Linked DNA regions of Homo sapiens. The protein of the gene in region 1 purifies or fractionates together with the protein of each later gene. This does not show direct contact. Each region holds a gene or a part of one and is shown on either strand. Other genes may lie near its edges. The genes, in order: DLL3 and CGRRF1.

Region 1 (3,817 bases):
TACTTCAATTTACAAAGATCTGGGTCAAGGCCCGGCGCGGTGGCTCACGCCTGTAATCCCAGCACTTTGGGAGGCCGAGGCGGGCGGATCAGGAGGTCAGGAGATTGAGACCATCCTGGCTAACATGGTGAAACCCTGTCTCTACTAAAAATACAAAAAAAATTAGCCGGGCGTGGTGGCAGGCGCCTGTAGTCCCAGCTACTCGGGAGGCTGAGGCAGGAGAATGGCGTGAACCCGGGAGGCGGAGCTGGCAGTGAGCCGAGATCACACCACTACGCTCCAGCCTGGGCGACAGAGTGAGACTCCGTCGCAAAAAACAAACAAAAAAAAAACAAATATCTGGGTCAAAATACAGGAGTATTACGGTTTCTATGAGATAACTGTTTATTTTTTATTTTTATTTTTTTGAGAGGGAGTCTTGCTCTGTCACCCAGGCTGGAGTGCGATGGCCGATCTCGGCTCACTGCAACCTCCACTTCTGGGTGCAAGTGATTCTCCTGCCTCAGCCTCCCGAGTAGATGGGATTACAGGTGCGTGCCACCACGCCTGGCTAATTTTTTTAAAGAATTTTTTATTTTTAGTAGAGACGGTTTCACCATGTTGATCAGGCTGGTCTTGACCTCAGGTGGTCCACCCGTCTCGGCCTCCCAAAGTGCTGGGATTTCAGGCTTGAGCCACCATGCTTGGCTGAGAGAAATGTTACCTAGAGTACTAGAAAGGACCACGACATTGCAGGTCCCAGGGTGCATTGGGGAGTTCGCAGCCTTGCTAAAGTAGAGGGTGACTGCCATTCTACTCGCGAGGTCCAAGGACCCCAGGGCTCCATGAGGGTGTTTTGGCCTCGCTGGGAGGGGCGGGGAGAATGCGGCCGGGGCGCTCCGTATGCATCCATGTTCGGCCGGGCCCACCCCAGCACCCCTCCTTTGCCTGTCCTCGCAGGGCCCGCCTGGAGCCTGCTGGCGCGCGTGGCTGGCAGGCGGCGCTTGGCAGCCGGAGGCCCGTGGGCCCGGGACATTCAGCGCGCAGGCGCCTGGGAGCTGCGCTTCTCGTACCGCGCGCGCTGCGAGCCGCCTGCCGTCGGGACCGCGTGCACGCGCCTCTGCCGTCCGCGCAGCGCCCCCTCGCGGTGCGGTCCGGGACTGCGCCCCTGCGCACCGCTCGAGGACGAATGTGAGGCGCCGCGTGAGTCCTGCGTTCGACCCCACCCCGTCCCAGCCGGGGACCCCGGCCCCTCCTGAGCGTCACTCGCGGCCCCCAGTCCCCTCTCACAACCCACTCACCCTCTTCAGGGTACTCTAGAGTCCCCCACCATGTACCCCAGGCACCCCTCTTCAGGGAGCTGGGGAACGCGCTGACTGCTGCGGATGTATCCCAAACCCCGCCCACCATCCAGCTGCCACCTTCGGAGAAACTGAGGACCCTGGACCTCTCTCCAGCCCTGCCTTGCTACTCGAGCCCCCTTCCCTCTCCCAGCCCTCTTGTTGCCCCAAATCGGAAGCCCACGTCCATTTTCTATGCTGGCACCCTCCAGTTCCTTCCCTAACCCACATTCACACCCTGTCCTGATGCTAGGACTCCAAAGCTCTTCTAATTCTGCGGCCCTCCCGACTCCCACTCGGAAGCTTTGGAATCTCCTCCCAGTCCACTCTGGCCAAGGGGCCCTCCATCCTCCCTCCCTAGGGTTGCAGGCCAGAACCCATGGCTTCTTAAAGCTTGGAATTCTTCAGACTTCTCCCCAAATTTCAGAGCCCCACCAAGGCCCCTAGGACTCCCAGGCTAATCCAGATCTTCTCAGAGCCACCCTAATTCAATACACTCCCATCTTCCCTGAAAGGCCAGGGGTCCCCCCACCAATCCCAAATCCCCTCACTGTCTCCTATCCTCACGATCTCACCTGGGTGCCCCTGTCCCATCCTCTTTCCAAGAGCACAGACTCCAGCCCGATGGCCTGGGTTCACATCATCACTCCTCCACTTCCTAGGTGGGCTGGTCACCTCGTCTCTGTGGGCCTCAGTTTCCCTATCTGTAAACTGGGGGGGCGGTCACAGTACCATCTAGTCCCGATGATTATCTGTCACAAAGATGAAGCAAGGTGGCTCAGGGAACGTGCTCAGAAACCTCCCTGCTTTCCATCTTGTCCCTGGCCCTCCCCGACGTTGGTGTTCCCTTTCTCTCTGCCTCTCTGTCCCCCATAGTGGTGTGCCGAGCAGGCTGCAGCCCTGAGCATGGCTTCTGTGAACAGCCCGGTGAATGCCGATGCCTAGAGGGCTGGACTGGACCCCTCTGCACGGTCCCTGTCTCCACCAGCAGCTGCCTCAGCCCCAGGGGCCCGTCCTCTGCTACCACCGGATGCCTTGTCCCTGGGCCTGGGCCCTGTGACGGGAACCCGTGTGCCAATGGAGGCAGCTGTAGTGTCAGTGTCACCCTTCCCACCTTGTCCTGCTTAGTACTTTACCCTGGGAGCCACAGCCCTCTCCCTGGGGCTCCATGAGACACCAGCCTGGGGAGGAGATCTGGGAATAACTATCAGGGAGGTCTTCCTGGAGGCATCCAGCCGGCATCTGGGGCCTTGAAGTAGGATTAGGTGATGGGGATGGGACTGGGGAGAGCAGGCTCAGTGGGTGGCCCCGAAAGATGCAGGAGTGGAAATGATGAGGAGCCGTGTGGGGCCACAGCTGCCCCTACTGCGGGACTGAGAACGATTCAGGGCCCAAGGTAGTGGGTGGTGGGGCCAAATAGGTTGGAGATTTGGGATCTGCGGGCACAGGGGGTGGAGACATCAGAGAAGGCTTCCTGGAGGTGGCCCGGGGCTGGGGCTTCTGGGACGTGATTAGAGAGGGTGGCCAGGTGAGTGGCCTGCAGGGAGCAAGGGTGCAGAGGTGGCAGTGAGTGAGCCTGGCATGGAGTGCTGGGATAGAGTAGGGTCCAGTGTGGGCCACCTGGATACTGCCACACTCAGGGTTCAAATACTTAGGGAGAGGCCCTGGGAAGGAGAGATCCAGAGAAGCCTTCCTGGAGGAGGTGGGCTGAGATCTAGGACCTCCCAGTAGGACTCGTCAGTGTAGACAGAAGCGAGCAGGGCAGACCAGGCAGGCAGCATTTGGTAGGCAAAGATGTAGGGGTGGGAATGGGGTCACTCTGGGTCCCCAGAGCCTCCTCCCTCTGGGGTCACATGGGCAGACAGAAGAATGTGGAGTGGATCGAGGGGATGTCGGGAGGACCTCCCAGGGTGGCCCCTGCATAGTGGGACTTGAGACTGGACAAGGAGCAGCCCCCAGTGGTTAGGACTGAGGAGGGGGATGGGATTTTTCTCCAAGGAAACACCCTTCTCAAGTACTCTTGTCCCTGCCCAGGAGACACCCAGGTCCTTTGAATGCACCTGCCCGCGTGGGTTCTACGGGCTGCGGTGTGAGGTGAGCGGGGTGACATGTGCAGATGGACCCTGCTTCAACGGCGGCTTGTGTGTCGGGGGTGCAGACCCTGACTCTGCCTACATCTGCCACTGCCCACCCGGTTTCCAAGGCTCCAACTGTGAGAAGAGGGTGGACCGGTGCAGCCTGCAGCCATGCCGCAATGGTGAGGCCTGGAGGCCTGAACGGCGAGGGATGGGGTGGGGGTCCTGGATGGCTCAGACAGTCCAGGGTTGGAATCCTGGCTTTGACTCTTCTAACCCTAGGGCCTGGGGACCTGACCTTCCACCTGCAAGCCTGTAAAATGGGCAAGGAGACATTCCCTATCTCATAACTATTAATATTTACTGAGAATTTACTGTGTGCCAGGCCCTATTCTAGGCACTGAGGATACAGCAGGGAATGAA
Region 2 (3,817 bases), on another chromosome or scaffold:
TCCTTTCGTCTGATATACCCATTAGCACTGAAAATTAGACTTCTTATGGATAAAGTGTTGCTAACTTATTGATCATTCTTGGTATACTAGAAGCATGTTTATTGCTTCAGAATAAGCACTCCTCAAGCATTAGAAGATGCTCTGTGGAGTGAATATCTCTATCAGGAACAGTATTTGTATCCTTTCATCTGATATACCCATTAGCACTGAAAATTAGACTTCTTATGGATAAAGTGTTGCTAACTTATTGATCATTTTTGGTATACTAGAAGCATGTTTATTGCTTCAGAATAAGCACTCCCCAAGCATTAGAAGATGCTCTGTGGAGTGAATATCTCTATCAGGAACAGTATTTGTATCCTTTCATCTGATATACCCATTAGCACTGAAAATTAGACTTCTTACGGATAAAGTGTTGCTAACTTATTGATCATTTTTGGTATACTAGAAGCATGTTTATTGCTTCAGAATAAGCACTCCTCAAGCATTAGAAGATGCTCTGTGGAGTGAATGTCTCTATCAGGAACAGTATTTGTATCCTTTTATCTGATATACCCATTAGCACTGAAAATTAGACTTCTTATGGATAAAGTGTTGCTAACTTATTGATCATTTTTGGTGTATTTTTGTTCTTATGGTTATAGTGGCAATTTACCTTTACATTTTCAAAAAGTATTAAAAAGGATAGCAAAGAAGAAATATATTGCCAGTTACCAAGAGATACTAAAATTGAAGACTTTGGTACAGTACCCAGATCTCGCTATCCATTGGTAGCGCTATTGACCTTAGCTGATGAGGATGACCGGGAAATTTATGATATTGTAAGTAATTGAAAATTTTGAAAGCATTACCTTTAAGTGATTTGAATGGTGGTTCTTCATTATTTGATAAATAGAAAAAGTTTTATTTTAATTTCTGAGGATGTGCATTTGGCCTACAACAACTATATACCTATTTGGTTTTTATATGTGAAACAGTACCTTCAGATTATGACTCATTTCTTGCCTTATGGGTCACAGTAATATGACTTTATTTGGAAAATAAAAGATATATAATGGTTGAATTAAGTTAGTTTCATCATTAACACCTATTTGGTTGTATACACCTATTTAGTTTTTATATGTGTAACAGTACCTTCAGAGTATGACTCATTTTTTGCCTTATGGATCACAGTAATATGACTTTATTTGGGAAATAAAAGATATATAATGGTTGAATTAAGTTAATTTCATCATTCTGTATTCTGTCATATTTGCTGTATAGAAACAGTCTGTTGGGAAGCATGTTTATTCTGAACATGTTTAGCAGTGAATAAATAAGCACAATAATGATCGAAAGTGCTCAATTTTAAGATAGTATCCACTCTTTTTTTGCCTGCTTGCAGTCACCTTGTTTCCATCAAAGTCCCTGCTGCACCTATATCTTATATGTCTGGTCCCTGTATTTTCAGTAATTATAATAATCTCCTTTCCTCATTATGTGCTAATTATTTTTTCAGTCTGATAGTTGATTCCTATTAGGAAGTTAAAAGTATCTTAGAGATCTAAGAGGACTGAAACTTTGACAATCATCTGAGTATAATAGAAACTTAGACATGAAATAAACTTTTGATGAAATTGTATCATGGTAAAAATGTCCTTACACACAATTGACTACTTTTCTGAAGTATTTAATATAGATTATTCATTAATAAACATATGGTAACATTGTTTTGTGATATTCGTAATATGCAAAGTACGTTCACAAACATGAACTTATTTTTTTCTTCTAACAACCTGGTTTCTTAGGACAGGGCAAATATTCTCCTTTCACAGACTGAAACAGAGTCAAGAAAAATCCCAGTCATTCAGGCAGTAAGAGATGGAACAAGAGCTTGACTCTGAGCTTTTTGTGTGTGTTTGTTTGTTTTTGTTTTTTGAGTTTATTTTTTTTAGCAGGAATATCTTCCTGCAACAAGTGTACATTGAGCTTTGGAAGGTAAAGACTCTTTGGGAAATCTAGACCCTTCTTACTCATTTGCAGTTAAGCACCTAGGTTTTTGGTTTTTAATATTTTCAAACTGAAGTTCCATTGAGCTGAGGTCAGCTTATTTTTTCCAAGTCATGGGGAGCAGAGGGGAAGGAAATGGGGATATGTAGGTCACTAGAGACAAAGTTACAGATACATAAAATGAACAGGTCTAGAGATCTAATGTACAGCATAAAGACTATAGTTAATGTGGTATTGCTTTTGGGATTTTTGGTGCTCTTGCCACATGCAAAAAAAGTGGAAGTAACTGTGTAAGATGATGCGTAATTTGCATTATAATAGTAACCATTTCACTAGGTATATATATATCAAAACATCCTGTTGTACACCTTAAATATATACAATAAAAATACAAAATACAAAAGTCATACCAGCAGTAGTGTATTTCCAGAACCTAGTACAGTGCCTAGGATATAATAGGGGTTCAATAAAGATTTGATAAGTAAAAAAAAAAAAAAAAAGTCATACTAGACAATGTTAATGAGCCTCATAGAGCTTGACAGCGAAACACCTTAGCTGTACATCCCATGCACCTTAGCGTGCATGAGAGGCCTTCTGGCTTCCTCCCTCCTTTCTCTCAGTTTCAGTTAGAGATAAATAAAACCTGTTAAATTGGTGTCTCCTATTTCTAGCTTCTTTGTTCTTGACCCTGTGTACTTGGGCAAGGAAGCCCTTCTGCCCCCACTGTGTGCCCCATCTCTGCTGAGTTTCTTGGGTTCTGTTCTCCTTTTTCCTTTGGTTCAGCACAAAAGGATCAGATCGCAGTCATTTTCCCTCCCAGCTTCCCCATTGCATTCCTTTTCCCTTCACTGATAGTGCTCTCTAGGTGCTCAGGGTCTTTTTTTTTTTCTAACTTTCTTCCCCTGTCCAAACAGGGAGTGATTGTGTATCTGTGTGGTAAAATATATATATTTTATATATAAAGTTTACCATTTTAACCATTTTTGTGTGTGTGTTTTCAGTTCAGTGGCCTTTTAGGCCAGAGAAGAGTTTGCTCTCAGGTCCCTGATCACACTGGATGAAGACTGTGTGGCCCAGCTGTAGTTGTGGGAGGCTTGTTCCCATAGGGAAGCCTGAGTGTCTCCCAAGGGTTAACAGCCATCTTCTCTTGTGCTTTGTGTATGTCTCTGTGTCTGGGTCCTTTTGAATGTCTTTTATTCTCATCTGTGGGCTCCCTCCTTTTTTCCTGTTAATCCTTGCTTCTCGTCTTATTTCTTAGATTGGGGGTAATATTGGCACTCAAATATATTTATTAGTGTATTTTGTATTAATGTTCTCTGTTTATAATTTTAAAAGCAAATGGACCATTTCCTATTTCTTTTTCATATGTGTTTTTTCAGTATTGTATGTGCGTGTCAGGGACTATATTTTTTTAAAAAATTTATTAATAAAATCATTTTTATTTTAACAGCAAAGAATTATATTTAGGTAGTACAGTTAGGAACCACTTTGTTGTTTTAGATTAAAAAAAGGAAAGCAGGAATTGTTACTACAAAATTTTGACTTTAAAATTTTTTCATTTTTAGTTAATTACATTGGCTTTTTTTCAGTATTATTCAAATAATACATTTGTGGCAGGAAAAAAAATTAGAAAGTGTAGATAAGCCAAAAGGAGAGAAGTATAATAATCTGTATTCTATCATCCAAAAATAATCACTGTGAATATTTGTCTGTATCTTTCCAAATCTTTATATATGTAATTAAAAAAGGGATAAAATTATACATTTTATACTATTTTGTGACCTGCTTTCACTTAGTAGTATATTCAAACATTTTTTCCATATCAAAT

Evidence for each region.
Region 2: the proteins of DLL3 (region 1) and CGRRF1 purify together in Homo sapiens (affinity purification with mass spectrometry; one large-scale study listed by BioGRID and IntAct). This does not show direct contact.

What each region holds. Positions count from the first base shown.
Region 1 is NC_000019.10:39,501,876-39,505,692, forward strand, and holds part of DLL3 (delta-like protein 3 isoform 2 precursor), read left to right. Parts: intron 1-939; coding exon 940-1,182; intron 1,183-2,195; coding exon 2,196-2,413; intron 2,414-3,353; coding exon 3,354-3,576; intron 3,577-3,817. UniProt on the Homo sapiens protein: Inhibits primary neurogenesis. May be required to divert neurons along a specific differentiation pathway. Plays a role in the formation of somite boundaries during segmentation of the paraxial mesoderm.
Region 2 is NC_000014.9:54,530,230-54,534,046, forward strand, and holds part of CGRRF1 (cell growth regulator with RING finger domain protein 1), read left to right. Parts: intron 1-673; coding exon 674-821; intron 822-3,817. UniProt on the Homo sapiens protein: Able to inhibit growth in several cell lines.